2 linked regions of the Homo sapiens genome follow. The protein of the gene in region 2 binds, or shares a complex with, the protein of the main gene of each other region. Each region holds a gene or a part of one and is shown on either strand. Other genes may lie near its edges. A codon is read from its position in the direction of its gene.

What was found. Proteins that work in one complex are often made in the same cells at the same time.
Region 1: the proteins of U2AF1 (region 2) and U2AF2 are in contact, whole or in part, in a crystal structure (PDB 1JMT), measured with the Homo sapiens proteins. Residues at the interface, in NP_006749.1 of Homo sapiens: His77, Glu80, Phe81, Glu84, Val85, Glu88, Met89, Leu130, Asn131, Asn132, Arg133, Trp134, Phe135, Asn136, Gly137, Gln138, Pro139, Ile140, His141; in NP_009210.1 of Homo sapiens: Lys90 (codon at 5,013), Tyr91 (codon at 5,010), Trp92 (codon at 5,007), Asp93 (codon at 5,004), Val94 (codon at 5,001), Pro95 (codon at 4,998), Pro96 (codon at 4,995), Phe99 (codon at 4,986), Ile102 (codon at 4,977), Thr103 (codon at 4,974), Pro104 (codon at 4,971), Met105 (codon at 4,968), Tyr107 (codon at 4,962), Lys108 (codon at 4,959), Gln111 (codon at 4,950).

The regions. Positions count from the first base shown.
Region 1 is NC_000019.10:55,657,606-55,665,565, reverse strand, and holds part of U2AF2 (splicing factor U2AF 65 kDa subunit), read right to left. Parts: intron 6,705-7,960; exon of another isoform or gene 6,585-6,704; intron 6,357-6,584; coding exon 6,221-6,356; intron 5,390-6,220; coding exon 5,345-5,389; intron 5,051-5,344; coding exon 4,947-5,050; intron 4,529-4,946; coding exon 4,377-4,528; intron 3,796-4,376; exon of another isoform or gene 3,736-3,795; intron 3,065-3,735; coding exon 2,948-3,064; intron 1,961-2,947; coding exon 1,822-1,960; intron 1-1,821. UniProt on the Homo sapiens protein: Plays a role in pre-mRNA splicing and 3'-end processing. By recruiting PRPF19 and the PRP19C/Prp19 complex/NTC/Nineteen complex to the RNA polymerase II C-terminal domain (CTD), and thereby pre-mRNA, may couple transcription to splicing.
Region 2 is NC_000021.9:43,097,213-43,105,172, reverse strand, and holds part of U2AF1 (splicing factor U2AF 35 kDa subunit), read left to right. Parts: intron 1-770; coding exon 771-858; intron 859-3,740; coding exon of another isoform or gene 3,741-3,807; intron 3,808-4,653; coding exon 4,654-4,720; intron 4,721-7,960. UniProt on the Homo sapiens protein: Plays a critical role in both constitutive and enhancer-dependent splicing by mediating protein-protein interactions and protein-RNA interactions required for accurate 3'-splice site selection. Recruits U2 snRNP to the branch point.

The sequences.
Region 1 (7,960 bases), on a different chromosome or scaffold from region 2:
GCACTTAGGACAGCGCCAATCCCTGTGTCGTAGAACTGCCGTCCATGGAGGGCACTTAGGACAGCGCCAATCCCTGTGTCGTAGAACTGCCGTCCATGGAGGGCACTTAGGACAGCGCCAATCCCTGTGTCGTAGAACTGCCGTCCATGGAGGGCACTTAGGACAGCGCCAATCCCTGTGTCGTAGAACTGCCGTGCATGGAGGGCACTTAGGACAGCGCCAATCCCTGTGTCGTAGAACTGCCGTCCATGGAGGGCACTTAGGACAGCGCCAATCCCTGTGTCGTAGAACTGCCGTGCATGGAGGGCACTTAGGACAGCGCCTGACACACACTAAGCACCAGCAAGTGGCGGGCCACTCATGGGACTTAAAATGAATGAAAACGCAGTGGATTCACCAGGAAGAGACGTGGGGAAGACATTCTGCAGCTTGATCGGGGAAACGCACCCATACGTAAAAAGTCCATGTCGATTGGGAGCATGTCAACATATATTACAGGCTCCAAAAGGTTAGCTGAATTTACCAAAACCCATGATGGAAAAGCACTGGGCTGAGCGCAGTGGCTCATGCCTGTAATCCCAACACTCTGGGAGACTGAGGTGAGCGGATCACTTGAGGTCAGGCGTCGGAGACCAACCTGACCAACATGGTGAAACCCACCCTCTACTAAAAATACAAAAATTAGCCAGACATGGTGGCAGGTGCCTGTAATCCCAGCTGCTCGGGAGGCTGAAGCAGGAGAATTGCTTGAACCCTAGAGGCGGAGGATGCAGTAAGCCGAGATCGTGCCACTGCATTCCAGCCTGGGTGACAGAGCGAGACTGTCTCAAAACAACAACAACAACAAAAAGAAAAGCACTGGAGGCCAGTGAGGGACCTAGCCCAAGTCCTGCCTGACACAGATGTGCCTCCGTCTGGGGCTCCACATCGCCTGCCCTGAAGAGCTGACTCAGTTCCTAAAGGGCTCCTCGAACAGTGAGTACCCGCCAGCAGAACCCCACCTCCTCCATGTCCCAGGCCTGAGACACAGCCGCACCCTGACAGGGCATCAGACAAGCCCTCCCTCAAATCCCATTCATCAGCTACAAGGGTCAGCCAACTATAGCCTGTGGGCTGACAGGGCCCATCACCTGGTTTTGCACATCCTGCAAGCTTTCTAAAGGGAGACCATTCTGTGGCCTGTGAGAAGCACAGGAAAGCCCAACCTCAGCAGCCACGCGTGTCGAGGTGTGCCGGCACACAGCCAGGCCCACGCACGCAGACACCGTCCGGCTGCTTTCACACACAGTGACATGGTCGCCAACCCCTGGTCTGCTATGTTACCTACCAATTACAGATGATGTTCAACACAGCTATGGGGAATGGCCCAGAACACAAGATTCAAGGCAAACACTAGGAGACAAAAACAAGTGAATACCCAGGTGCCAGACCCCACAGCAGCAGCTTTGCTGCCAACCGTCGACACACAGCAGCCCCGACGGGCACAGACTGAGCCCTCCAAGGTCCCACAGCCGCAACGCAGGCACGAGGTCCAGGCCACAAGCCCCTCGCTTCCCCAGCACCTTTGGTCTGATCCTGGCTCTGCCACGTACAAGCTGTGTGTCCTCAGCAGGTGACAGCTCATTCTCCCGGCCCTAGGCACCTTCTCTACCAGCAGGAGAGCACCCCACTCACAGAGACTTAGGGGAAGCAGGGAAAAGGCACCTATCTTCCACAGTACTTACACAACTTCCTAAGCCACTCCAGCTGGGCTGAAGGGATGGACAGGCCATGGGAACAGGACTGGGGGAGAAAGGGGCCCTTAATGGATCCCCCACTCACCAGGCACATAGACGGAGGGGTTCTCTGACATGCCAGGAAGCGGCTGGTAGTCGTGAGGCCTGCGGATCTTTAGTGACTGGCCCTGGAAGATGATGCCATCAAAGGCCATAGCCTGGGTAGTCTCGTCCACTGAGCGGAACTGAATGAAAGAGAAAGGAGTGGTGAGGGATGGGGGTCAGGGACTAGTACAGCCCCTAGTGTTCCAGGATTGGGATTTCCTCTTTCCTTTCACTCATGTGAACAAATACAACATGCCAGGCCCCAGGCTGGGCACTGGGAGTACAACAGACACGCATGTCCCTGCTGCCAGGAGCTCACACTCGACCATTAAAAACACCAGGCACCCAACACAAACACAGAGGCAAACACACAATTGCAGGCTGTGATGACACGGAAGAGGGACAAAGTGCTGAAAAGGGATGTTACGGGAAAGGTTAGTTGAACGGGGAGATGACAGTACTGGAGTCTTTCTGGTGAGGGGGACATTTCAGCCCATCTCCGGAGCAATGCAACTGCAAGTGGACTGCAGTGAGGCAAAGACAGAGTGAGAGGGACAGAGTGAGAGGGAGTGCTCAGACAGTGAGAGGGAGTGCTCAGAAATCTCTGCAGTAAGCTAACACTGCCCACACCTTCACAATACTTCATGAGAGTTATCAGTCCACCAAGAGTCGAAAATCAAAAACCAAGGCCTTTTCCCGACAGTTGAGAAACACAGACACAGAAGACTAGTTAGGAACATCAGTTAGCTGGGGTAACAGAAGACTAGTTAGGAACATCAGTTAGCTGGTGTAAAGAACTCTAGCCAAGCAGGCAGGAGCATGGTAGGTTCTGGGAAGGTCAGTGTGGCCAGAGTGCAGAGAGGACTGGGCCGGAATGGTCTGGAAAAGGCCAAAGAGGTCTACAGAGGCCAAACAGGCCTCTCAGGTCACACAGAAAGCAAATGGAAGGCAGAAAGTAGGATCAGATCTGTAATGCTATAACAGGGCTCACTTCAGCGACCGGGTGGAGAAGAGGCTGCAGAGGGCCTGGTGGAAACAGCACAAGGCAGCTCCACACAACATCAGCCTAAGGGCTGGGCCCTCACATCACACACGTTTCCTGGACCTCACTCACTCCCCCAGCTCACCTCCAAAAAGGCAAAATTCTTGTCCTGGTTAATCTGCACAGCCAACACTGGGTTGCCAGGGGCCTGGGTCAGCCCCCCCAGGCGCATCTGGGCGTTGAAGAAATCCATCATGGCCTCCTGCAGAGGGAATAGGAGACAAGGGGGGGGGCGGGGGAAGGGAGGTGGAGAGAGGAGGGGAAGGGTGAGAGAGGGAGACACAGAGGGGTTTGGGGGTAAGGGGAGAGGGATGAGGGGAGGGAGGAGGGGGGGAAGGAACAGTGGAATATGGGTGGGGGTGTAGAAGTCAATAGTAAGAACAGAAGCAAGAGAGAAAATGGGGAGGAAGCAGTAGCAAGAGACGGCCAAGGGCAGGCGATGGACAGGCGTTGGGGGACAGCCACAGGGGCCCCAAAAAATCAGGGGAAAGGAGAAGATTGTTCAAGAAAAGGCAGAGGGCATGATGACAACACAAAATGAAGAAAAACACGAAACACAAGAGATGAAGAGACAGAGCACACAGGAAGGGCCACCCAGTGGAGACAGACAGAAAAGTGGCAGGAAAGTAGAAAGGAAGTGGCAGGCAGGGGCAGAGACGAGCAAAGGACAGAAAGGGAGAGCAGGACAGAGACGAGCGAGGAGGAGGAAGTCAAGAGTGCAGGGGCAGGAGAGGAGGAGTGTAGGGAGGAGGGGCAGGGACGGGAGGGGAGGAGAAAAGAGTGATGTGGAGGAATCTGGCCCTGGAGTCCGGGGGCTGGTTTATCAAATGTAGCAAAGTGCAGGTTGAGAAAGTCAGAATGGACCTTACTTGCCTTCGACGATGGTAGCAAACTTTTTGTTGCTACGAGGGATCTCAGCCCCACAATATTTCACTTTAAAGAGAAATGGAAACAACTCTTTGATCTCGGGATTCTCAGGGGGTGCCACAGGAAGGGGTTGGGGAGAGGGGAGAGGGAAAAGGAGTGGTGGGGAAGGGGGAGGTCAGGGGCGATCAAAAATAAAAGAACAGCGACCATGGGAGGGACGTGGGGGAGAGGATAGGGGACAGGCGGCAGAGAACGAGAGGCGTGTCAGAAAAAAACTGAGGGGCAGCGTGCGTCTGTGTGTGTGTGTGTGTGTGTGTGTGTGTGTGTGTGTGTGTGTCCAAGTCTCCCTCTCTGTCTCTCTCCGACACGTAGGTACAACACGTGGGTACATTATGTGTGTGCTTGATCCCTGGGTTGCTGGAGGAGGTTGGGGGGAGGGGAGACGGGAGAGGGGAAGAGGAGGGAGGGAGGGCCACCCCCAGCCCGGCCCCTGGCTGGCTCAACTCCATCGGTCCGTCTGGGAGGGGGCCGGGGGGTCTTGCAGGAGCAGAGTCTGACCCGTGCAGGTTGGGGAAAGGGAATGGAGGGAAGGGGAGGAACGGGGTAGAGGGACAAGGGAGAGGGTAGGGGGCAGGGGAGGGCAGTACCTCAGTGATGCCAAAGGGGATGTTGCCCACGTAGAGGCGCCGGGCTTGTCTGGTCATCTGGCTCCCGACCACGGGCACCGGCGTTGGGGTCACAGCCAGACCGTCAGGGGTCATGGTGGGGAGAAGAGCAGTGGCTGGAATCTGACCCGCAGCTTCAAAGGGAATAAAAGCCGGATAAAACCCCATCAGGGGAATGCTCAGTGACCACCCCTCACCACACACTGGGAGTTCCCCTCCTCAGCAGAAAGCTCCTACAGGCTCTCGGTCTTAGCACCTTCCAGAACCCTCTTTCCACCCTCGGGGCCCCCACCCAGTAACTGCTGCTCCTCAGAAGCCTCACTTCCTAATGGCGTCCAGATGGAGGCCTCATTCCCCTGTCAACCACGGGTGTCTCTGGTCATTTCCTCCTCTAGGGAGGCTTCAAAAGCGCAGAGACCAGAACCCCCAGGGGTGTGCAACCCTCTACCTGTGTCTTTGACCCCCTCCAAGCACACACGCAGGGGAATGACTGACGGAGAATCCCAACCCCTGTACCCTCCCGCTCTGGGAGCAGCCTGGCCAGGGGCCTACCTTGCATGGCCTTGTACTGCATTGGGGTGATGTGCTCAAAGCCTGGGGGTGGCACGTCCCAGTATTTACGGACCTTCTTCTTCTTCTCGTGGCGGGGGGAACGACTGGGGGAGGTGGGAGGGGAGAGCGGGGCAGGGCAACCTCAGTCTGACCAACAGTGGGCCTGCGAGCCCCCTCCCAGGCACCCTTTCACCCTCCCCGCAACCATGTAAGCTCCACTCTCTCCAGGGAAGGAGAGGGTCTGGGGCAGGGCCTGGGAAAGGGGTGCTGGTTTCAAGGTAAGTGGACTCTTCCCAGTGCTTGGGCCAGGGCTGGAAATGGGCGGGACAGGGTGCACGGGCGTGAGGAAGGTGAAGGGAGTGGACATCAGGGAGGAAGGGGCAGGAAGAGAAGCTCACATCAGTCCACCGTGCTCCTCTTTAGCGCCTCTGGTCAAAGGTTTGCTGGGGGGTGGGAGGGAAAGGTATGGGGAGGGGTGACTGGGGACCCTCGTCTTCCCCACATGCCACACCCCCCCAAGGGCACTGAGCCCCAGGGTGGGAGCAGGGCCGAGGTCAACAAGCAGCAAGCAGGCCACCCTCGGCCCTGCCATTTCCCCCCAAACACTCCCACCCCCAGGAAAGAGGAAGTGAGGAAAGGAGAAAGGGGCCAGGGGCCAGGAAGGACCAGTCTCTAGCTGGAGAAACTGAGCCGGGAGGAGGCAGGAGGACTTCCGCCTATCCTGCCCTTCCTCACCTAAGGAGGCAGAGAACAGAAAGGGGAGCCTAGAAGGGAAGAGGCGGTGGAAACCGACACCCCTGGGCCAAAAAGTCAGCCCAGGCTGTGGATACTGCCTCGGTCCCAAGAGCTCCCTTCTCCTGGGAGGCAGGGAAGAAAGAAACTGGAGGCAGAGACCAACCCCCTCGAAGAGAGTCCCACAGAGAGCCACAGAGAGTCGAAAAGAAGGAACAGGCCCTCAGAGTCAGAGACAGAGAACAACCCCTTGTGAAGGAAAACACAGAATCAATTCCCAGGCTCCAGATAAAGAGCCTATTGCCCCCAGCAACCCACCAGCAACCACCAAGACAGAAAATGAAAGAAACCCCAGAAACGGGGGAAAAAATCGGAATCCAAGACAGACCAAGCAGTAGATCCCTCCCCCAGATCCACACAAAGAACGAACGAGCCACACAGGGCCCGGACCCAGACACAGACACACACAGGCCACCCACAGGCCGGCCAACACCGACCCCCCGACTCCCAGGCTGGCCCAGGGGATCCCTGAGCCCTAGTACCTGCGTCGTCGCCTGTCCCGGGAGGCGCTCCGCTGGTCCCGGTTGCGCCGGTCGCGGCTCCGGCTCCGGCGTTTGCGGTCCCGGCTCCGAGAGCGGCTGTGGCTGCGCTTCCGATGCCGGTTCTCCTTGTCCCGCTCTGGGCAAGGGTGAGAGGAGGGGCACGGGATAAGCGGAGTAAGGATGCGGGCCCAGCCCACCCTGCGCGCTGGTGGCTATGTCCCAAGCCCCAGGGAGGCCACCCCCAAAGGGAAGGGATTCAATGGAGGAAGGGAATTAACAGGCCTCCTGGGTCCACAAGCGAGTCCAGGGACCATGAGGGGACCAGGGGGACGGGGCCTGGAAATGCCCCCGGGGTGTAAGATACCTGAGGATGCTCAGGAGGAGCTGGGGAGCCAGAGAAGACAGAGGAGGCTGGCTCCTGGTCCCCCTCGAGGGCTGAGGGGCCTGACCCCAGGGTCGTCCCTGAGAGGGGCAGGGCTAGAGGCTGGGGAATCAAGAGACCCAATGATGTTTTCCTGAAGGGACCCAGCGACCCCTCAGGAAAGACCTCTGCAACTAGCTGGCACCCACAGCCCCACCATCAGGACTAGGGGTCAGGTGCCAGGCAGGATCTGATATCCCCAGGAAGCAGGGAAACTCAACCCATCCCTTCCCAAGCCGGTGAATAATGCAGAAGCAAGCACCCTTCCCAGGGGAAGAGAAGGGCCTCGGAGAATCTGCAGACTGAAGGGGAAAGAGGCCCTCCTCTCCTTCAGCAGGTCAGGGGAGGAGCTTGCCCCATCCAGACTTGAATCCCAAACCACTTGAATCTCTCAGCCTCACTCCCTTCAAAGCCAAGTACTGAAGAGACTGTAAAGGCGTGAGTAGGGGCGGGTATCTCTGCCAGCCTCCAGCAGGCTCCCTCAACCCTCTATTTGCCTGAGGTAGCCACTAGGAACGGAGCCTCACTGGCAAAACCACAGAAACCTCTGCTCTCACCAGACCCTTCAACCCCTGAAGAGAGACCGGCCCTTCAAGATGGAGGATAAACCATGAGCATGGGGGGGCGGGGGGGTTCATGAGCACCGCCACACCATTTCCTTAATTCAAAGACACCCAGATTTCTCAGCTAGCCATGAAGCACACACACAAAACAGATGCACACGTTAAGGTGCTTATATATGTTAACACGCATCTCCTGGAGTGATCATCCCTGGGGACAAGAGGAGGAAAGGGCACTGAGGGAGGATGTTAAACTTCAGCCTCACCCACAGTGTTTTGTCTCACGTTTTTGCGATGCAATGTGAATGTCTGGAAAAGCATCACAATTCCAAAACCACCAACACTCAGAAAAATATGCACCCAGCAGGGAAAAAAACAGCAACAAATATTGAGATGCTTCCTACAACCGGAATCTGTACTAAATTGTTTTGTTTGTTCTTAATCCTCACTACTGCTTCGGAAAAACACTGCTGGGGGCTGACATAATGGGTAAGGAAACTAAGGTATAGAGAGATCACAATTACCAAGGTCAAACAGCTAGGAAATGGTGACACCAGAATTTAAACACTCTGACATCAGTGAGTTAAGCACGAGGCCATACTCTCGAATGTGGATCAGGCAGAACACTCAGGTCTGGCTAGAACCATTAATGACAATATAATTGTCCCCTTGAAGGCCAAAAACCCCAAAATCAAAAACTGAAATTGGGAGGAACAATCGGCAGGACAGGCCAGCAGTGTAGAGCAGCGGGCACACAGG
Region 2 (7,960 bases):
GTATTAAGGGAGGGTTTTGCAGTAGAGACAGAAGGTGACGTAAGGTGGTTCCTAAGGTGGGTTCGGTCAGTCCCCTAATAGTTTGTTTTCAGTGTATTGAGACCAGGAGAATTGATTTACTTCAGACCTATTTTTTGAAACTCCCTGTTGGTCTGGTGTCATGCGTTTAGAGAGACTCTGAACTTCGTTTTCTGTTTTCCTTAGATAATGATAGCACTTCATGAGCACCATATGTGAAGCACACATACGTTCTGTCTGACTCTCAGAACAGTGCCACATTGGCATTGTCATCATTTACAGATGACATCTGAGAGCTAGGGTGACTTGCCCAAGCCCAAGCAGCTGGTAGCAGAGTTGGGATCTTAACCCTCACCACACCGGTGTTTTCAAGAGAGAACTTGGTCGTGGAGAACTGGAGAACAGATACTGCCTAAGTTACATTTAGTTTTAGACTAATTTAATACTCCATTTAAGAAACAAACAGAACAGCTGTGCAGTTAGGAAAGTGGAGGGGATTTGAATGAGGAGGAGGCGGGTTAGAGTTAGAACCGTCTTTGCTGAACAAGTAGTGTGTTTGCAGAAAGGGAAGTTGAAGTTACGTTGTCCTAAAATACAGCAAGGAAGAGGAGGTGCTTAATACCACGGAAAAAAGTCTGTGTCATGTTTCTGTGAGGTTAAAAGTAATTTGATAGTGTATGTCATGCTGCTGACATATTCCATGTGTTTGATATCTTCCCAGCAAAATAATCAGCTCTCATTTTCCCTTACAGAGTCAACTGTTCATTTTATTTCAAAATTGGAGCATGTCGTCATGGAGACAGGTGCTCTCGGTTGCACAATAAACCGACGTTTAGCCAGGTTTGTTTGCCTTTTTTTCATGTAAATTATAAAAACTTCATGTTCTTTTCAAAGACAGTTAATTTCTACATATTAAGCAAGTCATTTTTTCTCTCGTAGTTGTATTTTCCATTTGTGTTCATAAGTGTGTTCTTTTATTTAAATAATAGTGAGGCAGGTGATCGACTTCCAGTGGAAGGTCTGAGACCACCACTCCTTGTTTTTATCATTAGAGAAACTTTAAAAATCAGTTTTTGATGTTTGTGTGTTGGCTGTGCCTGATATTTGCTGCCCTGCCATCTTCCCTACCCCCTCTGATAGACATGGGTCCAGAGGGGGTGGCCGTGCCAGCCTTGGGTTAGCCTCCTCCAGGCACCAGTGGACACGGAGTGGGCTTTCTGCTCTTTGCTGTCTCCAGACAGTAGAGGTGATGGAGCCACCTTCCAAGTTAGCGTGATTGTCACCAGGCCCATCATGCTGCTCGAGCTTCTCTGGCTGCGTCCTCACTTTCACATCCCTAGCTGAGGAAACAGCGAGTCGCATCACGTCATGGAAACATGAAAAATTAAGCTGAAAGGTAGAAAATGGGCCGTAAATTGCTCTTAGCGGGTCTGTTTGGTTAATTGAGGAGTGCCTGTTATCTTGGGCTTAGATCCGCTCTGAGTTCAGTTCAATCAAAAGTTGTGAGTTTTGATAGTTTTATTTTTGGTTAGTTGAAGAAAAGGCAAAGGTTGGTACACTATAAAGGATCACTTACGGATTAAAGGGAGAAGGCACCTCTAATCGGAGCAGAAAACTTGTGCCCACGTTGATGAGAACATTTGAAATTTGAAAATCGATGCCCAAGTCTTTCCAGATGGAGGGCTGGGGAACTCCTTCCAACCCACCCTTGAAGTCTAAATGTGCAGCCTCTGAGCTGTTGAGTAGCTATTATGCGTGGTCCCTGGGAGCTGCCAGGCTCTGCCTTTGAGCTCACATCTGTCTGTATACGTTTTCCTGTAAGCATTTAAGAAAATCTACCACTTTGTGTAAGTGAGCTGGGAGAAGGAAACATGGGTTTTTTCCGGTTGAAGCCCATGGACGACCCCACAGCACACAGTGTTTTTAGAAGGGAAGAGGATGATGGCTTTTCCCTCCATTATGCTAATTACCAAGTGGTTAGTATAATAGCAGTCTGTCTTTTGATAGCTCTGAACATGAGTTTCTTTTTACAAATTTCAAAATCTTGGAGAACTAGCTTTACATTTTCTGTGTATTGCAATTGTTTTTTCTTTAATGTTTTGATTTATGAACCGAATCTCCCCTAACTAAACCAGTGGCCATGGATTGTGGTATAACCAAGCATCTTAAGTGACCACCCAGTTCTTTGATTTTGGGGGGTGTCCCAAGTGTTGGGCTGAGAGAAATCAACTGTTCCCTATTCTAAAAGTTTTCTTTAATCTGGCTGGAGGCACTTTCTTTATGTTTTTCTGGATCATAGATTACCTGAGAATGTGAAATGTGAAGTTAATTTAGGCATTCCAGGTCAGTGCTGGGGAGAGCCCATTGGAGCTCGATGGGGTCAGTAGTATGTGTCAGCTTAAGCATCCTAGTTTGATGCGTGGGTTTGTTTTGGTTGGTTTTAGGCAATCCTAGCCACCCTTGGCTTTCCCATTAGACTGCATTGCCTCTTTACGTTAAGCTTCCTTCATTAAATAGCCACTGCCAGAATACCTGAGTGAGACCAACTGAATTTTACTGTTGAATAATTGGGCTCAGTTTAGCTTTTCATCAGGGTTGTCATGGTACGGTCATTTCAGTTCAAAGCTGAGTCAAGTCAGCTTTGGGAAGCCTCCCAGGCCTGAGTTCAGTTGACTCAGGGCTGTACTTGGCGGCTTATGGAAGAAACGGGGCCCTGATGCAGGTCTGAGTGGTTCAGTGTGGACAGTTTGTCAGACCTCCCTCTTAGGTGGGGTGGGCTTCCCAGCTGCACACCTTTGACTGAGGAACTCTTCATACAACCACTCCCCTTTAAACAGAGCTAGAAATGGAGCTGGCTGGTTTTATAAAACCACCACTTACAAAACTGCTTCACGTGGATATTGTTGAGACTAAACATTTATTTTTCTAAATCATGCGAGTGATTGCTTTAGCTTGTAAATCTCTAGCATAATTCAGGGTGGGTTTCTTTATAAGCTGCTTACAGTGATATGGACGTTAAGATTCATGTAATATATTAGCCTACTAACTTAAACATGGTTTGTTTTTTCAGACAACTTGATTTTAAGAAGAACGGTACAGTGTAAGGTTTCAAGTCTGCCTGATCCAGTTTAAAGCACAAGGGCTAAAAGGATTTTTTTTCCTTAAAAGAAGGATCGGAAAAGAGCAAATGTTTTAAGCTATTGTATTATGTAAACAGAGATCCCACCAAGAAAGTGTAAATCAGAGCCGGGTGTCCATGACAGTTGACAGACCTGTTTGGTGTGCCTGTTTTGCTAGGAGACCAGAGAACTTGATGTACTGCAGACAGCTGAGTTACGCATTTGGTTTTGAAAAATTATCTTGTGTGAGGAATATGATTATAACGTGAATTTTTCCACATCTTGGTGTCTGCTAGCTTGAAGTACAAGAAAATATTAGTATTCTACTATTTATCTTGCATTAAAACACTTTAACATTGAAAACGTGGGACTAATCAAAACAATACAGTTTCTTCTTGGTTGCTGGCTGACTTGACCCAAGTCACTGCTCAAACTCTGTTTTCATAATATGATGGTTTTGGTGTACTCTTCAGAAGACAAATGTCTGACTTGCGGGAAAAAAACAAACGTTTAGCCATTTGCAAACAAATTGTCTCTTTGCAATTGTCTAATATATGCACAGCAGCCAGTAGAATTCCCCTTTTTATTTTTTTTTCCCCGCAGACCATCTTGATTCAAAACATCTATCGTAATCCCCAAAACAGTGCACAGACGGCTGACGGCTCACACTGTAAGTCCCACAGTTGGAGAAATTTTTTTAAAACAATGGTGTTAAAGAGCCCACTCTTAATTGAGACAAATAATGTTGGCTTCTGAGCTGCTGACATAGAGCTGTTGCAAACAGGACAAGGTGCTGGAACTCCTTGGCGCACACAGCAAGAACTTGATACTTGGCCACGTTCAGGAGGCTTATCCCTTCTAGGGAGGGTCACTGGCCCGGCCACCTCCATTGATTGACATTTGTCATGAGAGCAGGTCCGTCCATGTGAAACGGATTTCAACATTTTGAGCCATTCATTGGTCTTTACAGTGACTGAACCCCTGGCCTTTATTAAGTTCTTTGTGTAAAATTAAAACTCTTAGGAATATTAAGGAATCAATAAGGTAAGTTGCCCAGTAAGTGTGGGTTTTATTTCACCATTATAATTTTTCCTCCAGGAAGTGGAGATTTCATGATATGTAACAATTGTATTTCTCTAATACAGTAATTTTTTCCATCAGTTTATGTAAGCATTATTCTTTCCGAGTTCATTAAAAATTTTCTGCCACATCTAAGAACATTTTGGTGCTAGCCTGGCAAACTATTTGTGCTTTTACCTGAATTGGAATTTTGAAAAGGAGAGTTTTCACGTTCTGTAAGCAGAAGTACAAGATGGGCATATCATGAGACCTCCGTTACACCGCAGTGTTAGGGATTCAAGGCAGCCGCCAACTGAGAAAACGCCTCTGCTTCTCCAGAAAATAACTTGCTCTCTTTTCAGCACTGAATCTCAACTGAAGCACTTGCCAGAGGCAGCCGGTTAAGTGTTTACCTTTAATTTTCCATAATATAAAGTTGTTGCGTTTTGTATTTCAGACCATTGCCCTCTTGAACATTTACCGTAACCCTCAAAACTCTTCCCAGTCTGCTGACGGTTTGCGCTGTAAGTTCATACAAGTTCCTTCCCCGGTTCCCTGGGCTTGCGTGTCAGAGCTCAGTGTCCACTCCATCTGGTCTGCCGTGCTAGTGTCAAGGACCGCGTTTCACTAGAGGTGGCAAGGAGCTTTCGTCCCACTGACCCCATGGAAACCTCTTTTGGAGATTTGAACTCCCACCGTGTGTTAAAAGGGAAAAAGTAACTGGAAAGGGTGCCCTTTAAAACAGTCTAGAGCTGGGCCGGGCGCGGTGGCTCACGCCTGTAATCCCAGCACTTTGGGAGGCCGAGGCGGGTGGATCATGAGGTCAGGAGTTCAAGACCAATCTGGCCAACATGGTGAAACCCCATCTCTACTAAAGATACAAAAATTAGCTGGGCGTGGTGGCAGATGCCTGCAATCCCAGCTTCTAGGGAGGCTGAGGCAGAGAATCGCTTGAACCCGGGAGGCGGAGGTTGCAGTGAACTGAGATCGTGCCGCTGCACTCCAGCCTGGGCGACAGAGTGAGACTCCGTCTCCAAAAAAAAAAAAAAAAACAGTCTGGAGCTGCTGCTGCCCCTTCTTCCTTTACTTTGGCCGTCATCCTAGAGGGAATGTACTGGAATTAAACGTCGAGTCATATTCTTCCCTCTTAGAGCAACAAAATTTGAATGTTTCTCTCACTTTCTGGAATTTTTAAAAAGCAAACTTTTTAAGTTATTTTTTCAGATTTTATTTCTCATTAGCCTTTTTTCCTTGAACTCCATTTTGGAGTGCACCCTGTAGTTGTAAGAGCATTGTGCTGAGAGCGTTCCCCAAATGAGGGTCTGCAGCTTGCACTGACCCCTGAGTTCCTCACCCACCAGCCCCGTGCCGACCCGTCTAACCCGTGTGGGGGTGCTCCACTCAAATAGGCCCTTGGCAGAAAAGATTGTCCGTTCTGTCCACACACTGCCTGGATACAGTCTCCAGCTCTAGGAGATGGAATTGGTTTGCTCCATTTAGAAATAGATCAAAACTGGGCATTCAGTAGATGGTACCAATATCTTCCTGTACTGGGAAATACTAAATTTAGATTGTGAATATTTACCTAATGATAATTTTTAGAGAAGGAGATATCATAGATGAGTATGATTGGGAAGTTCAGAAAACTAAAATTTGATTTTTACAGCCATCCAACTATAGAATCATTAGAATTTAGTCATTTATGGATAAATTAAAATGAACACCTGGACTCTTGTTAAAATCAGAAAGTCCAAACCAAAGATAGGCACTTCCCATTCACCATTCTGTTTTAAAGCAGTAAAAATTGAGGTGCCCTTGGATATCCACAAGCCTAAATTGAGTACACCCTTGAACCAGAGCCCCTCAGTTAATGGGGTGACCGACATGGGGTAGCTGATCCCAGGGGGCATTCCCCTCTCGAGCTGGCCCTGCACTGGGTGGCCTGGGGATTGTGCTTCCTTGCACAGTGGTGCACATTTCTATGTGTGGATGAGATTTTCTTGTCAACTTTTCCTGCCAAGACACTAAATGCTTTTCAGTGCTAATACTGACCTGATAGTAGAGATTTCTTTCCCTGAGTCGGATGGTAGCAGGATTTACTTGGTAACCCTTGGTTTAAAATACCTGTTTTTTTGTTTGTTTGTTTTCTTTTGTTTTTTAAGGAAATAAGATCAATAGGCGGAGGGAAATTGTTTCTATATGCACTTATTAAATAATTTTTGTTAACAACCCTGCCCTGGGATAAAAGTGAATGGAAGTACATGACTGAGTAACAGTAATTAATTCTTTGCCCTGATCGTTTATTTGGGGACTGTATATGCTTTCTTGACTGACAATAGAATGTTGTATTAGTTTTCATTGTGTCTTTATTTGCAGTTCACAGCACTTTTGTTTTGCATATGCTACAAACTAAAAGTTTAGCAATTACGTTATATTCCAATTCTGGAGTCCAGATTGTACAAATTAGATGAAATTCTAATTCGTCATTTTAGGAAGAAATCAATTACCTAAAATTACTGGCTCTTTTCAACATACCCTTTAGTATGTAAAAAAATAAGCTTCAAATGCGTGGGTTAAAGTTAACTATCAATCCCAGTTTAAGAATGATATTTCTGTAAGAAAACTGCTTTATTTTCCAAGTTGTAGTATTTAACATAGGCTGAGTCACAAATAAGTTTTTAATTGTATCTTAATGCAGTTGTCTCTGCCTTTCAAGTCACTTTGATTGAAACATTTTAAGCAGAACAAATATAGCCAATAATTTAAAATAATCACCCCAAAACCATTTCTCAAACCTGCTAAAACTTTGAGCATGTGAATAATTTTCTCCTCTTCACATTCTTCTTATGTGGGAAGGAAGTGAATTTGAAATATTAAAATCTGCCCTTTGGAATAGGCTACTTTGGCCGTTTATAACTTGATTTCTACTCGGGGAGGAAGGTACATTCCCAATAGCTTTCCAATTGGGATATCCTGTGATATGATTGGCAGGCTGTCCGAGTAGTTACACTTAATAAAATTTGGGTTCGAAAGCAGATTCCTGGAAGTTCAAAAATAACTAAAACAGCCCCGGATAGGTTAGAAAGTGAACTTAAATCATTCTCAGAATTAGAAAATAAGAAGTTATTTTTTATCTTCAAAGATAAAAAGGGGGCCGGGCACGGTGGCTCACGCCTGTAATCCCAGCACTTTGGAAAGCCGAGGCAAGTGGATCACGAGGTCGAGAGATTGAGACCATCCTGGCCAACATGGTGGAACCCCGTCTCTACTAAAACTACAAAAATTAGCCAAGATCACGCCATTGCACTCCAGCCTGGAGACAGTGAGACGCCGTCTCAAAAAAAAAAAAAAAAAAGATAAAAAGAGTTTTGAGCAAGCTCAAAGACCCGTGTGCCAGCAGTCAGATGCCCACGTTGGGTGCACAGGCTAAGGCAGCCGGCCCAATCTGGAAACCAGTCAGGCTTTTGCCAGCCCCTAATCTAGCTGATTGGAACATGTTTGTTGATACACCAGCTCTGTGATTTCTCAGGTTTAGAGAACTCTAGAATTTGATAGAGTGGGCCGGGGGCAGTGGCTCATGCCTGTAATCTCAGCACTTTGGGAGGCTGAGGTAAGCAGATCACGTGAGGTCAGGAGGTTGAGACCAGCCTGGCCAACATGGTGAAACCCCGTCTCTACTAAAAATACAAAAATTAGCCAGGCATGGTGGTGCGCGCCTGTAGTCCCACCTACTTGGGAGGCTGAGGAAGGAGAATTGCTTGAAC